Regions from separate parts of the Homo sapiens genome. Here region 1 is linked to region 2. The links come from fine-mapping of genetic effects on gene expression. Tissue or cell type: adrenal gland. Region 2 holds a variant in brackets; the other region holds the start of a gene. All regions are shown on one strand. Distances are between the middles of the regions.

What was found. PIP is the estimated chance that this variant, and not a neighbour inherited with it, causes the effect.
Region 1: it holds the start of JAZF1, and the variant in region 2 is fine-mapped to the expression of JAZF1 in adrenal gland (GTEx, PIP above 0.99).

The regions. Positions count from the first base shown.
Region 1 is chr7:28,177,002-28,185,092 of GRCh38, forward strand. JAZF1 (JAZF zinc finger 1) reads right to left here and starts at 3,794. Exons shown (of 5, transcript NM_175061.4): 1 at 3,462-3,794. The coding sequence starts at 3,576. JAZF1-AS1 (JAZF1 antisense RNA 1) reads left to right here and starts at 3,456. Exons shown (of 4, transcript NR_034097.1): 1 at 3,456-3,538. RefSeq lists enhancers at 2,013-2,514, 2,515-3,014 and a silencer at 2,869-2,988.
Region 2 is chr7:27,859,253-27,867,359 of GRCh38, forward strand. All of the region lies in intron 3 of JAZF1 (JAZF zinc finger 1), which reads right to left. Among named protein-coding and RNA genes, the nearest start is that of TAX1BP1-AS1, 120 kb to the left of the region's middle. RefSeq lists an enhancer at 4,796-5,296. The variant C/A (reference allele first, on the strand shown) is at 4,959.

The sequences.
Region 1 (8,091 bases), 320 kb after region 2:
AACCTGGACCTGCTTTTCCCATCTCCATGTAACAGACTCAGACCTATGAATGAATTGATAACAAAATTGATGGAAAAGCACTTCACAGTTGCAGGGCTACGGGATTTCTCGGCAATTTAAATTTAAGTGGGGATGGGGGAGAGTTTTAGCTAGGATATTCAGTGTATACACTGAGACAGGTACTCCAGTACTGAACCAGCAGTGAAATGCAAGAAAGAAAACAGGAACACCGGTACAGCACTCTTCCAGGAGAGAAAAGAGCTAAAAAAGTGGGTGGTGAAAATCACACTTCCCTTGGTTCTAAAGCCCCCAAATCCTTGTTCATTATGGGGAGAGGAAAACAGTTAAAAACAAAAGTTAAGCATACACATATAAGATAACAGAGAGTTATTCTCAACTTAATGCACTTAATTAATCCAAACTAAACATAATACTTTTATAATGAAAAACACAGGCCTTGAAAAATCTGCCAAGCAAGAAACACACCATATTCCCATAAATATTCATTTTATCGCTGTTTAAGGGTTTTTACTAGTGGCTAAAGGTAATAACCCAGATAGGCCCCCAAAATGGAATGCTCACCTAAGCATATCTCTAATACTCACGGTTGCTAAATAACAAGACTGTTGAACAAATTAAAAGCAAAATAACACACCTCTTATTCTTTTCATGAATCTTTTTAATGTAACCACTCACCAACAGACATGAAATCAGTAAGTCAATCATTAACGGTCTCCAAATACTTATAGATTGAATCAAAAACGATAAATACCACATAACAATACCTGTCTAGAACTTTGACTAAATGCTTTATATTTTCACCCATGTCTTTTCATCAGAAGTGTATTTATATGACACTATCTACTAATTGGGATATTTTTATTCTTCTTAAGATCAGTTCTTCTTTCTGCATATAGGGCTGCCTTTGATAGTAAAGGGCCTCTCCCCAGCAGAAGTGTATAATAGTTTGAGCCTCTTCATCCTGGGAATTGCAAGTGTTTGTTCATTTTAACATTTGCTTTTCATAAAGTTTGCTGGTTCAAACTGTTTTCAACTGTGTTAGCCCTGCAACACAGTTCACCTAGGTCACTGCTATTGCTGTAAACTTAATTTTTCCACATTTTCACTATTAAAAGGACAACACTAGCCTTCTGGGAATGAGGTAGCATTACTTCAAAGCTGAGTTTTAGAAAACGTATCAAACTCTTAACCTTCTTTAAAAATGTGTGCAAAATATTAAGACAATTTCTACACTTAAAAAAAAAACCTCATGATTCACCAAGTTTTAAACCATCTCAAACTAAATCCTCAAGAAGGATAACTGTCTTTAACACATTTTAATAAATATAATTTATACTGTCTTTTAACCAGCTTGTCTAAGTAGGTAGGCAATGGGGTAAAATTATTACTCAGCTTATATAAATTATAGTTTATTCTGAAATAACTGTTAGCGAGAATGGATGGGATATGCAATGACAGCCTTCTGTAAGTCAAGAGAAATTATTTATTTATATTACTTATATCATACATATTAATGTATAGCATTATCTATATTTATTTTTTACTTATTATTGGGAGTAAGGGGAAGAACTTGAACTAGTAACATTTCTACCAGAACTTCACAGTACCGGTGTTTTCGCTTTATTTTAAACTAGCCATCATGAAAAATCTGATTTAATACTTTCAAGCACTTTCAGTTATGACTATTCAATCATGATATGAATCAGCAAATTGGTTGCTCCATTAAACTGCTTTTAAGACTACCAAAACTTGCCCAGCTCTTCTGTCATACCTTTAGCAGAGGAAATGGAAGAAGCTATTACAAGGACGCCTGAAAACTTGAAAAGTTTCAAAACCTGGACAATTACTCAACAGCATTTTCCTCTGAAAGACATTTTGTAGACGTTTCCCATGATTATCTCCTATTCCGGATGGCCCATCAAATCACATTCTAAACAGGCATTCAACACTTATTAAGCAGCCACTGTGTGCAGAGACAGCACTATACTAAGCAAAGGAGCATAGGGTTCTGCCTCATTTTATTCCTGCATAAATACACAGCAGTCGTGATTTATTCTCTCAACTTTGTAGAAACGTGAGCTGCATCCACATGGCTGAATCCATGGCATTCATTTGGACTTCCTGGGGGCAATTTACAGGTTCTCTGGATTAGACAGCCCCATTGGGACATCGCTCGGACCCTTCACCTTCTAGCCCACGCAGGACAACTCGCTGGCGTCGGTCACACCTTCCGCAGGTGGTTGGACCGCCTAAGCCAGATGCACCCGGCCCACCTCCCTTAGCAGGGGTTCCGAATAGAAGTGTGAAAATGTGTGCAATGACTTCTGCAAATCAGAGGACTTGTTGAAAGGTCCAGGGGTCCAGGCGTGAAGGGAAAGCAGCCACCCTGCGGGGCGCCCCCTCCCCGGCGTCTCCCGGGCCCGGGGCGCTGCGCAGGCCGCCGCCGATCCCAGGGCGCAGCCAGCGCACCTCGGGCCTAGCACCATTAGAAAGGCAAATCGCAGAGCCGGGGTGCATTTAAATGCCCGGCCATGGGCCCTGGGGGTGTCTCTCCAGCGGGCGCCGCCGCAGGGGCCTCCAGGGCGCGTCGACCCCGGGGCGCTGGGCGCGGCCCGCGGGCGCACCCAAGACCTCAGCCCGCAGCGCCCGGGCGTCCGCGCCAGGCCGGGGCAGGGGAGGGCACCCAGAGCCCCCGGGCCCGCGTCCCCGGCCCCGCCCGGGCCCCTCGGCCGCCTCCCAGGGAGAGGGCAAGCTCCCCGGCCCCCGCCCGCGGCCGCCGGCCCCGGCCCCCTCCCGACGCACCACACCTAGCAACCGGCGCTGACAGGACGCAGTGGCGGCGGCGGCGGCGGGAGGAGGAAGCGGAATGGCTGCCGCGGTGGAGCCACCCCCGCCCCCCCGCTCCACCTCCCCGCGGCTGCAGCCGCCGCCGAGCCCTGACAGCTCGAGCCGGGGCGGAAGCGCCCGGCGGCGTGCAGCGCCCGCCCCCCGCTGCCCTCAGCGCCTCGGGCTACTCCGACCACCCGGGCCAACTAACTCCGCGACCCTGCCCAGCGCCCAGCTCCCGCCGCCCGCCGCGCCCTCCGCCCCGCGCCCCGCGCGCCGGCACTCGGCCCCGCCGCCGCAACCCCGCCGCCCCGCCGCGGCGCTCCCCGCTCCCACCACTTCGCAGCCCGCGTGCACGCCCCTGAGTCCCCCAGCCGCCCGCCCGCCCGCCCGCGGCACCTCGGGGCGCCCGCCCCCTCCCCCACCCGAGCCCGCTCCCCGCCCCCCGGCACCTCGCGCCCCCGCATCCCGCCACCCCCACCTCGGGGCTCGCACGCGCCCTCCCCGCCCTGCCGCCTCCCTCCCCGCCGGCCACCCCTGGCCATTCCGGGGCTCCCCGCCCGGGCAGGAGTTTCCGCGCGCCTGGCACCCCCGCCCACCCCCGGGCCATTTACCGATGTGGTTGTCCTCGATGTGCTCGATGAGGTCGGCCAGGGTGGGGAAGTGGAGTCCGCAGCCCCCGAATCGGCAGGTATTGGAGAAGAAGGAGGCGGCGGCGATGCCTGTCATGGTGCTACATCGAGAGCCCCCCTGGTGTCGGCTCTGCGAGCGCCGGGCGGGCGAGGGAGGGAGGGAGGCCGGGTGGGGTGAGGAGAGGAGGGGCTGGGGGAGGGGGAGAGAGGCGGGGTGAGGGGAGCGGCGAGGACGGGACGGAGGGAGAGGGGGCGAGAGAGATGGAAGGAGAGCGAGGAGCCACCGGGAGGCAGAGGGGAGGCGGCGGCTGCGGCGGCGGCGTCGGGAGCGGCGGGGGGAGGGCGGGGGCGGGGGCGGGGGGGGAAGGCCGCCGCAGCTGGGAGGAGGGACCAGGGCGCGCGGCTACAGCTGTGCGGCCCCAACCTCAGCGCGCGGACCCAGGCCTCACCTGCGAGCCCTGCCACCAACTTTATCTCGCTAGGCCTGCCCTTTACGGCTTGCCATCCGTGCCATCTGTTTGGAGCCTCCTTGGTTATGTATATGACGTTCTTAATACACCCACATCGATTAATTACACCTACCTCCCTGCGAGGAGAACTCAGGGAGTTACCCTGGTCCCTCTCAGGGACATTTTTTTGTACTCAGCCACCTGTCTAGGTGTGACACATTCACAGGGGACCCAGGAAAGGTAATTGTGTGCACCTTCTTCTTTAAACCTTCTTTAGAAAAAGTACACATTCTCCGGAGGTTTGTACTAACTAATTGATTTTAATGAAGCTTTCCCTCTAGGCCAGAAAAAAATCTTAGCTTTATTTAAATTTCAAAATAGAGTGCTTGGTTGTCAAGTGCATTTGCCTGTGTTTTACATATGTGCCACGTTTTTTATACTCCCTGCTCCTTCTAGGAAAACAAAAACTAAAATAATTTCATCACCCGAAATTACAGCACCCTACTGCACCCACTCCACCATCTCAGGTCTGGTAATTAACCCATCCTCGTTTCAGCCACTGCAGAAAGGACAGTGCATTGGTTAAGGCTAGAAGGAGCGGAAACAACGGCAAGGGACATAGTGACTCTTCATTTAAAAAGGAAGCGATTTCATCCTGTGAGCATTTAAAGCATAATGTTGACCAGGTAACCACTTAAGGTGAATTTAGTAGCTTCCCTGAAAACCAGCATTTTGCTGAGAATCAATTACTTTCTTGTCCCCACCCCCTCCTCCAGTTGCAGTCATATTTCTTCTGTAAAGTGTGTATTTTCCAGTAGCACTTTTCCAGGTGTCTAAGAAATATTACACATTATCAGCAGTTTATGACCCAACAGTACATTTTTTTTATTAATATTAATATATGCATACTGAATTTAGCATTTTTCCTTAGGGCAAATTTCACTTACCCTCTGGTGCAGATGCATGGAGAAATAGTATTCCTCCCTCCATAAACTCTATGCATCTCTGTCTAGTGTTATTTCTAATAATGGGATTGTTTGCTTTTCATGTAAGTGCTTAGAGTAAAGGCACATGTAATATGTCTGTTGCTACAGGAAGTTTTATGATCTGACCATCACCGGTGGCATTTTCTCTTCTCATCTCTTCTGTCTTGCAGCTCACAAGGTGACAAACTTGCTGAGATGAGATTCGGCTTGGGTGGGGCTGGGGCAGCTGTGTCTTGAAGTTCAGTTTGGTGCCAAGAATGGTTTCATGGGCCCAATGAGGGTGGGGGCAGGGCCCTGGTGGGCCTGATAATGAGCCAGGGACCGAGTTGGCAGGGGACTGAGGCCAAGGCCAGACAAGGGTCTAAAGAGCAGGAGTTAGAATTCTAGATCTTGAATTAGAATTTTGGCAGCTGTGCAGTACATTCAGCTGCCCAATCTGGGAAGGCCTTCAGCTGAGAGCAGGCAGAATATCTGGCAGGCACACACCACACCAAATGACATGGAAATGCAATACAAAACTTCAGCCAAAAATGATGCCAAAACAGCCACCCTTAGAGATGAATGTTAGGCACCCCCACTATGCAGCATCTGGGAGCCCCAAAAGCTTTGAAGAAGTAGCAGTTCTGTCCTCCAGAGGAAAAATTGTCTACGTGGAGTTATTAACTCCCAAGAGTGTGGAGAGGTGGTTCAGGCAAGAGAGTTCCGAGATGGGAAGTGCCAGAAATGTGCAGGTGAAAGATGAAGGAAGTAAGGGGCCTGGGTTTCACTAATGCATGGCTTTCTACTACCTCCTGTCAGTTTCACTATTCCTAAAATAAAACCTTGCTAGACCAAATTGAAAAAAATAGATTTTTTAAAAAATGAAGTGAGCTAAAATAACTTCCAAAGTAAATCAAGATATTGGTTTTTAAGACAAAATTATTTTCTCTACCTTGGATAATTATTACTGTTTTGTAAGGAATCAGTTCATTTTGCCTGAAAATAATCCACCCTACTACTTCTTCATATGTGACTGAAGCTTTGTTTATGTGATGTTCTGCTCATACTACTTTTTAAAAATCTGTACACTCTAGGCATTTCCGGTCTTTATATAAGATACATGATTGTGATCTCTTAGACCTGGAAGATACTCTGGCTGTCAGAACCACTGGTTTTGGAGATGTGGTAAACTGAGGCCGGGGCATCAAGCAAGTTCTCCCAGGTGCACACAGACAGTTTTTTTCTCTGTACTCATGGTGCATTTAGAAGGCATTGATAGACAATAGAAGGACAAATTATATATAGATAGTAACCACAGGCAAAGTTTTTTAAAAATTGCTAATAGCATGCTTACCTTTCTGTACTTATATTTTTAAAATGTTTGTTTCCAGGATATCCCTTTAGATAAAGTCAACATCTAAGCTACAAAAATATATAAAACAAACAATTCAACTTATTACATCCGAGAGAGAAGGTGATGACTGATATACCTCTGTACTGGCAAAAAACATCTGTCTGATTTGGAAAGTAAAAATATTTGAAAGGAGAGGGAAAGTGAGGGAACTGAGAAGTCAGAATGATATGACAGTGGCTGTAGACAAGAAGCATTCTCTGGGTTTAAGAGCCTTTTCTTGAAAACCATCTGTCTCTCCCCAGAGCCCAGTGCCTCCCAATGTATAGGCACAAAGTATGGATGTGCAGTGGCCCCATAATATGGTACTTAGCATTACAAATGGTTTGAGATCGCATAACAGTCTCCCCAAATCCAGCATGTCCAGTGCCCTCGAGATGGGGCAGCTGCCGGAAGGTGTGAATCCACTGGTCTAATGGAGCCAACTGAAGACACTGAGGATCCTGCTTCATACAGCTGTCTGTCCTCCACATACAGGAATTGGTTTATTTTGGCATACACTGATAATCAAAACCGTGCACTTCCTGTGTCCTGTGTGGACATCTGTTAATGATGCAAGAGGATCTATATGAACATTAGATTCTATCTTGAATCTAACTCTATACTGCCTTCAACTGTAGCTTTCTCTGGCTTTTTAGATTGTTTTCCAGGTCCCTCTTGAGGTGCTTTTCAGGTTTACTAGATATTTCTTCTATTGTCACCACTGTGTCGAAGGAGCAGATCATGAACCTTGGTCTTCTTCAGCTCATGCAAGTCTGTGGACGCTTACAATGTCTGATGTTCCCTGGCTCTTGAATGCTAAGGCTGCCACTTCCACCAACAGCAACCTTGGGCTCAAAGGGATGCCTTCTTTTTAGGCTCCATCTTCTTCTAAGGAGGATGATTTCTATTCCAGGTTTTATTGTTTAATATTTATGTAACCAAGTTTTCTGTATTTATTTTATTCCAGCTCAGAAATGAATCAGCTTTATCTGCTCTCTGGTGATTAATTCTCATTTTGTCCCTCAGTCTCATTTTGCCTAGGATTAAGAGCTAGCCTTAGAATGAGTAATGGGGGTATTCTTATTAGTTGCCACCAGTGACCTCATGAGTGTTAGCCCCTAGCTCTCCACCTGGCTGCTCCTGCCTACTGACTGTATACGTAGTTTTGGCATTTATTTCCAGTTCCTTGAAGGACTTTTCCAGAACTAAAGTAGTAAAACACCCACCCAATCACTGCAGTTCTAATTGAGCATCCTGGATCCATTCCACTACATTATGTGCCACACTACTACCCAGATGATAACTCCAAACCCAAATCTGATGGGAGCCACTGCTGCTCAGGCCACCCCAACCTGAGTTTTAGAATAATGTTAACAGAAGCAGCTAAGCAATTACTGTTTCATTTTTGCCTTTAACCTATCTTGATTGAACATCTATGCAAAGCTCCTGTTACACAACTCCAGAAGGCTCTATTTATATAGGCAACTGCATGAACAGTGACCCTGGGATCTGTGCAGCCTTGCAGTCCTGTTCCACTGCGCAAGATATGAGGGATACAATTTGAATAAGACAAGCCCAGTCTCTCCTCACGTGAGAGAGCACTAGGTGCTTTGCAAAGTCCTCCTCAATCTATTCTAAGGGCCTGCTAGGGGTGGCTTGGTTGGACTCCGTGTACTACCCTCTTGGCTGCTCTGGTATCTATTATTTCCCTTCTTTCCAGCTTTGGCTCACTCAGATGATAACTTCAGTTGCTGTTGACTGTAATGGAGCCACTAAGGCCACTAATGCTTGTAAAAGACTGCACA
Region 2 (8,107 bases):
GGAAGGCTTTTACACTGTTGGTGGGAGTGTAAATTATTTCAACCATTGTGGAAGACAGTGTGGTGATTCCTCAAGGATCTAGAACCAGAAATACCATTCGACCCAGCAATCCCATTACTGGGTATATACTCAAAGGATTATAAATCATTCTACTATAAAGACACATGCACATGTATGTTTACTGCAGCCCTGTTTACAACAGCAAAGACTTGGAACCAACCCAAATGTCCATCAATGATAGATAAAGAAAATGTGGCACATATACACCATGGAATACTATGCAGCCATAAAATAGGATGAGGTCATGTCCTTTGCAGGGACATGGATAAAGCCAGAAACTATCATTCTCAGCAAACTAACACAGGAACAGAAAACCAAACACCACATGTTCTCACTCATAAGTGGGAGTTGAACAATGAGAACACATGGACACAGGGAGGGGAACATCACACACCGGGGCCTGTTGGGGCATGGGGGGCTAGGGGAGGGATAGCATTAGAAGAAATACCTAATGTAGATGACGGGTTGATGGGTGCAGCAAACCACCATGGCATGTGTATAGCTATGTAACAAACCTGCACGTTCTGCACATGTATACAGAACTTAAAGTATAATAAAAAAAGAAAATGAATACAAATTATCAAATAAAAGTCTGTAAAGTCTACGATAATTGTACAAGTGCACGACAGTAAATGATGATGTGCAAAAGTGCTCAGCGAGCCTGCCACATCTGTTATTGCTGGTTTTTGAACTGTGGTGGGAGGAGGTGCTCCTTACAATAGTCACACATTTATTTCTTAATTTAACCCACTACCAAGAGGACCATTGTTACTCACTGATGCATCAAAACTTGGGTAAATAATTATCCTGTTTAATTAATTTTCTTAAATGTATGATAGCTCACATTTATTTTAATGTTTAATACTAGAAGTGTTTTGGGTCTTTATTTAGAAGTTTGCTGTTTTTGTGATCAGAAATATGCTGTAGGAACTTAACTTCTCTTTGTATAAATTAGCCTTTGGGAAAATTGGTTCTGTTATATGTCATTTCACTTAAAGTGAAAATTTCCAAGAACCTCTTGACAACATTAAGTGAGGCCTTCCTGTATTTGGCTTCATTAGTATTCAATGTTGCACTATGATGACACTGAGCCATGGGATGAACCAAGCTCACATCTTTATCTTCCTTGGAGTTCAACACCATCTCCACAACCTCTGTTGTGATCTTTCTCATCTTCATCCTCCTCCTCATCCTCCTCACTGCATGAGCAGCTGATGTGTATCTGGGGCTCACTACAGGCCAGGCACAGCTCTAAGCGCTGTACATCTATTAGCTCATTTAAATGTCACAACAACCCTTTTAGGTGAGTACTAAGATTATCTTCATTTTACATAAAATGGAAGCCCAGAGAGGCAGAGTATCTTGTCAGAGGTCACAAAGCTCCTCCGTGGGGTGCAAGGGTTCCCAGCTGGCCAGGGTCTGTGTTCCCAGCCAGCGTACTGCACTGCATACTTGAATCCAGCCTGACCCTCAGATGGACTGTAAGCCTCCTCTCAGTGTGTTTAAGCCCCCAGGTATTCTGGTTCCCCCCATCCCCACTTTCCTCTTTGCCTCCCCTCGTCCCTCCTTTTTCCTAAGAGACAGTCTTTGGGCACCTGGTGCCCTCTGTCCTTCTACTCCAGAACCACCCTGCATGGCTGCCATCCTGGGATTCCCCTTCTCCACTGTCCCAGCAGTTCCCTTTTCCTCTCCCCACATGGGGCCGATGCCTGTTCCAAGGTTCTGTGTCTTCCTCTTTCTTCGTTCACCCCTTGCTTGGGTCATGGGAGGTAAAATCTGGAGTCCCTGAATGTCTGAGGACGTCTTCATTCTACTCTCAGGTCGATGCCCACGAGTCCTGAGCTGCACTAACTCCCATTCTCAGATGTGTCCTCCTCCTGGGAGACTCAGCTTCTCGCTGCTCTCTGTCCTTCCACCTGCCATCCTTTTACTACTGTGCGGGGGACTCATCCACCTGGAAACTCACGCCCTTCAGTTCTGGGAAATTTCTTTGAAAAAAATTTTTTTTTTATAATTTCCTCTCTTAGCTGTCTTTCTGGGAATTCTTTTTATTCTAATGTTACACACCTCCTGGACTAATCCTCTCATATTCTTATCACTTCTGTTTTCTAAATCTCTGATTTTTTTTTTCCTTTTTACTTTCTGGGAGATTTTTCTAAAATAGCTCTCTGTCCTTTCTATAAATGTTTTCATTTCTGCCATCACCTGTTTTAATTTCCAAAGACTACTTTTTTTATTCTTTTTTTTTTCATGCACAAAGCTTTCTTCTCTCTGTAAGGAGAAGGTTGTTGTTTTTATTTTCTCCTGCCCCATGCACTGTCACTGTTTCTCCGGTGTGCCTTTTTTCCTCTTTAATCTGGTCTCTGACACTGTCTGTCCTGGAAGCCATTCCCAAACCTTGAGGATCCTTGTCTGTCTGCTCATATTTAAAAGTGAGGCATAAAAAGCAGATTGGATGCTCTGGTGCATAGGTGGGTCTATCAAATGGTGAAGGTCCACACAGTGAACCTGGAGGGGGACCACCTCACAGGTCCTTTCCCCTTGGGCTGACCATCCTGGGTGGTGTGAGTGGCTGTGGGTAGAGAAAGGGCACTGGACTTCTACCACTCAGGATGGAGTCTCTTCCTCAGCCTCCCTGTTCTAAGAACTGTGCCCTCACCCTGGGCTCTGCCTGGCAGCTCTGGTTCAGCATCTCCAGAGCCATGCTCTGTCACGGGAGGGATGGCAGCTGCCTGGCCTCGCAGAGTTAGGGAGGATACAGAGGGGGAAAGGAAGGGACATCCCGTGGAGACTCTCAGCCAGTTCTCCTGACTTCAGCCTTATCTGTACTCCCACATTCAGAGGTATCTGTAGCTCCATTTTTAAAATAGAACAGATTTATTTTTACTTTTTAAAAAATATTTTCAACTTTTATTTTAGATCTAGGGGGTACACATGCAGGTTTGTATATTGTGTGATGCTGAGGTTTGGGGTACAATTGATCCCATCACCCAGGTCCTGGGCATGGTAATCAATAGTTAGCTTTTCAACCCTTGTCCCCTCCCGCCTCCCCCGCCCCAGAGGTCCCCAGTGTCTACTGCTGCCGTCTTTATGTCCATGAGTACCCAATGAACATAAAGCTTTACTGAGGTATAATTCACATACTATACAATCCACTTATTTCAAGCGTACTGCTCAAGGTTTTCCATATATTCACAGAGTAGTGCAGCCATCATCTCAAACAATTTCAGACCATTTTCATCTCTCCAAAGAGAGACCACGTACCTATTAGGTTGCTCCAGATCTGGAGGCTTTCTGGGATTATTGAATGTGAATCAGCCCACCTCTGAGCTCACCCTTTTCAGCTTAAGTTCCAGCTTTTTCTAGTCTGCTAAGTCAGTGACCTCTTTTCCACTTGCTGTCCAGCTTCCACGCTTCTGTTGCTGCTGCCTCACCTCTATCTTTATCTTTGTGGCTTATGATTTTGAAACCCCGCTTTCTGTATTTTGGGTGCATGTGCGTGTTCACATCACCTTTTTAAACTGGAAGTTCCCTGGCTGCTTTGAAATCATTCTTTTTTCTAGCAAGAACAAAAGTTCCAGGCCTGTCTTGGATTACTCCTGCCCTAAGACATGGGGTCAGCTCCTTTCCTTTAAATAGAGGACAGCACTGAGACCAAAATCTAGGTGCTGCTTGTGGGGCCCGATGGTCCCATGTGAGGGCTGCTTCTGGGTAGGGCCACCATTCCGGCCTGCCTTGGGGACAGGGCTGTCTGGGCTTCTCTTTAGGATCATGAATTCACTACTGACATTTCCAATTTAATGCTAACATCAACATGTGCTTCAAAATGTTATTTCAGGTGAACATGCAGATTTATTTTCTCTGCCTACGGCTACTTCGTTGTCTATTCCTTCCCTGCCCATCATTATCCTTCCCTCTCTTTTATGACACTTGTATGTCTCCATGTCCATCTGGCTGGGGTCCCTTTGATGACCCTGTTCTCCCTGCTCTTGAATTAGAGACCGGTGGCTATAAAATGCTGAGCCTGTCCCCGCCACAGGGCCTTCTTCCCATGGTGCCCTCTCCTTGGACTTTCTTCTTCCAGTTTTTCTCATGGGTGGCTGCTCAGCATTCAGGTCATGTCAGCTCAAATGTCACTTCCCCCAGGAGGCCTGCCCTGATCACCTCCCTGCCGAGGGAGCCCGTCCTTGCCCAGGCACAACCTCCGTACCTGGGTATCTCCCTCATAGTGCAGCTAACTTTCTAAATGATGCTGTTTTCGTCTTTGCCATCCTTCTTCCCCCAGCACTGGAATGCAAGCTCTGCAAAACTGAATTCCTGGTATCCTTAAAAGTGACTGGCACACAATTGGCACTCAATATATATTTGTTGAAGAAATAAATCAGAGGCAGAGACAATGTGCAAACACAGGGCCTCCTGACCCCCAGGCCACTGTCTTGTGACTACGCGATGTGGTTCCTTGGGGAACAGAAATCCAAGTACAAGGCTCAAGGGAGGAAGGCATAGCGAAGACACACAAAAACGTCACCTACCTGAGATTCAGCTTCCAGCAAATGAAACGCCTAAGTTCAATTCCCTGTCACATTTCTCTCTGCCAGTTTTTGGCAAAGAAGTGAAACTCACAAGTTGATGGAATGCTTGTGGGCAGTGGCACTTCCCGCTAGGTCAACTGCCAGAGAGGAGCACAGGAGAATGCAGGGGCTGCCTCCTCCAAGCCGCCAGCTTTGTGAACAGAGCCCGGACTCACCAGGAGCGCAGGGCCCTGACTACCGCCTGGCCGCTGTGACGAGACCGTCGTCATCCTAAGGGCTAATGATGCACAGAGGAGGCTGTGACTCACCCCTGGCTCCCTCACTCTGCATCAGGGAAGAAGGAAGAATGTCACCCTAATTCCATGG[C/A]CCGCGATTTAATTTGAGGTCAAGATCAAAGCTATTCAAATCAACATCTTCTAAAAACTGGAAATTCAGATTTTAAGACAATTCCACAAAGCCATAACAAGAAATTCTGCATGTATTTAAATAAGCACATTCTCAGAAAAAGATGAAAAAAATGCACACCCTAGGAAAAATCAGTCCCTTTCTCATTAACCCTAGAGTGCCAGGCCCCTTCATCCTTTTCTTCTTTTCATTTTGAGACTTCAAAGCAGCCCTCTGCTCACCTACTCAGTTTGGAGTCAAAACCCATGGGTTTGCCCGGCTCAGAGCCTACTGCCCCCCTAGCAGGAGTCCTCTCCCTGCTGAGGGCTCCGGTCAAGCTGACTTCTCCTGGTACCTGAGTTCCCTGCTCTCCCAGCTTGGTTAGAAGAGAAAGAAACCACCTGAGTAGCACCAAGAAAATATCATCTCCTTTATTGTTCCCATATGTTGTTTCAGGTCTCATTTCTTAAAAAAAAATCCTACATTTTTAGGAAAAACTGAGCAACGAAAAATGCCAACGTCTCTTCAGGACAGCAGGGAGCTCAGAGAGACACCTTTCCCCATCCGTTAACCAAGTCAGAAGTCCCACTACTTCCCTCTTGGGGAGATCAAAATGACTTATTTTCCCTTAACAACATTTCTCAATGTTGCTACAGACTTGGGGAAATTTACTATAAAGTTTTTCTGTGGCAATGGGCTCCCTCACAGGACCTGCTTCCCCCAGAGTCTCGAATAGTGCTCCCAAACTGCAGACCGTGACCCAGGAGTAGGTTGTGAGATCAATTTAATGGGGCATGACGAGCATTTGAAAAGGGACAGAATGGAATAGAGAGTATCAGAGTATAAGGTGTGTTCATGGGCTGGGCACAGTGGCTCACAGATGTTAATCCTAACACTTTGGGAGGTTGAGGCAAGCAGATCGCTTGAGCCCAGGAGTTCAAGACCAGCCTGGGCAACATGGTGAAATCCTGTCTCCACAAAAAATACAGAAATTAGCCAGGTGCAGTAGCACACGCTTGTGATGCCAGCTACTCAGGAGGCTGAGGTAGGAGGATTGCTTGAGCCTGGGGAGGTTGAGGCTGCAGTGAGCCATGATCGTGCCACTGCACTGCAGCCTAGGTGACAGAGTGAGACCCTGTCTCCAAACAGAAAACAATGACAAAAGAGATGTGTTCATGAAGCTTTTGTTTCAGGGGTGTATGTGCTCTCTCACAGAAAATGTAGTTCTTACTACTTCAAACAGTAAAAATCTTTAAAGCCATATTTAACCATCAGAATCTAGTTTATAGGATTTCTTTATAAAAGAACCAACATTTAACCCAGAAAAAACATACTACTGAATAATGGTATCCAACATTTAAATAGGATATAAAACAGGCTAACAGAGAAAGAGAAGGGGAGTTTTTGGCGACCATCGACAAGATGTTGTGTTAGCTAGGAGTACAGTGAGTGCCACCCACCAGCCCTCCCCACCAGGAACCTGAAGTTTAACCGGGGAGCAGAGCTGTTGCCAATCCAACTTCCGTAGCTTCAGAAGGGCCCAAGTAGAAGGGAGCTGACAGCCACAGACACGAAAGTGACAGATACACAGATTGATGGACAGTATGCAGAAGATTCCCAGCTGATTCAGTATCCTTTAGGACACGGGGCACATTCTTTGTGAATATTCTCAAGGGCAGTCCACCCTTGCTTTCTGAGCAGGTGACTTTGTTCTAGGGAACAGCCACAAGTCACTTGGGGCTGTTCTGCTGGACTAAGAATGATCATGTATGCGGCACTTTGAACTCCTTACTCAGGCCGTCATCAGGCTGCTACCTAGAATGGGTTCGCAGACAGGTTCAAGTCTTGCAGCACAACCTCAGCTCGTCTTCATCGAGTGAGGGCAGCACTGCCGGCACTGAAAGGATGGTGCTCTGTGACACAGTGCACGTAGGCATTTGTATGTAGTATGGATATTTTGTACTTAGTAATTTTGCTTACTTAACAGACACTACAATTTCTATATGATAAAATGAAAGGAGCCACAATGATGATAGGCCAGATTGCAATGTGCAAAGGTGCACACAGAACGGCTTCATCCTTCCATTAACCCTGATGAACACAAAGACACAAACTCAACCCAACTGTCCAGAGCCCACATGGTGAGGTGGCTAAGAGAGGCACTTGGGAGCAGGCATCCTGTGCTTCATTCTGCTCTGTTCTGACAGTTATCTCACCTCTCCACACCTCCATTTCCTCATCTGTAAAATGGAAGTAATATTAGAGCTAACCTCACAGGGCTGTGGTGAAGATTCTGTGGTTTCATAAGCATATTTAGGTTGACTTCCAGCACACAGTTAACACTATATTAGTGTTGGTTGCTATAGTCCTGTTAATCAGTATTTTTAAATTAAATGTCTGGATTTGAACAACGACCAAGGAACCACAAAGGCCTAACAATAATCTAATTCGAATTATCTGCCTATAATTAGTGGACTAAAATGTCTAAAATGTAGTTTACATTTCGAACACACTCGATTACCATACTGCTTCCTAACGGTGTTGGAGAAACATAATGTGCTGATTTAGGATTATATTGCTGAATTTATTTTCATTAATCCATTCACATTAGTGGAGACCTGGGGATAAAGAAGACACGCTGTCTCTCTGGCCTCGAGGTGCACGATGCAGAACTTGGGTGGGCAGACTGCATCACACCGTGGAGGAATGCAAGGTTGGAGATGGCCCAGACACTAAGGGAGTGCCTCACTCTTAACGACATGACTTCTGAAGGCAGTGAGAGTGAGTACTGTCTTTGTTGGACCAACTGCTGCTTGTGTCTGCACTGCGGCAGCCCTCGCCGGAGCTTGTTTTGGTATGATGATTTCCTTCTTAACTGTGAAATAAAATGTGCTATATTTATAGAGGGTACACCTACAGACAGGGTGGATATTTTTATGCCAAGAGAAAGCTCAAAAGGAGGGCTGGGAAAGGGAGGATGATTGATATAGAGAAAAATGTTGCAATGATCAAGATGAGAAATAATTAGGGTCTGCCAGCCAAAACCAGTTTCTACTACATCAGAGTAATTGTCTCTTCCAAGACATAGCATATGACATGAAAATGCACCAACAGAAAATAAGCTGCTTCTC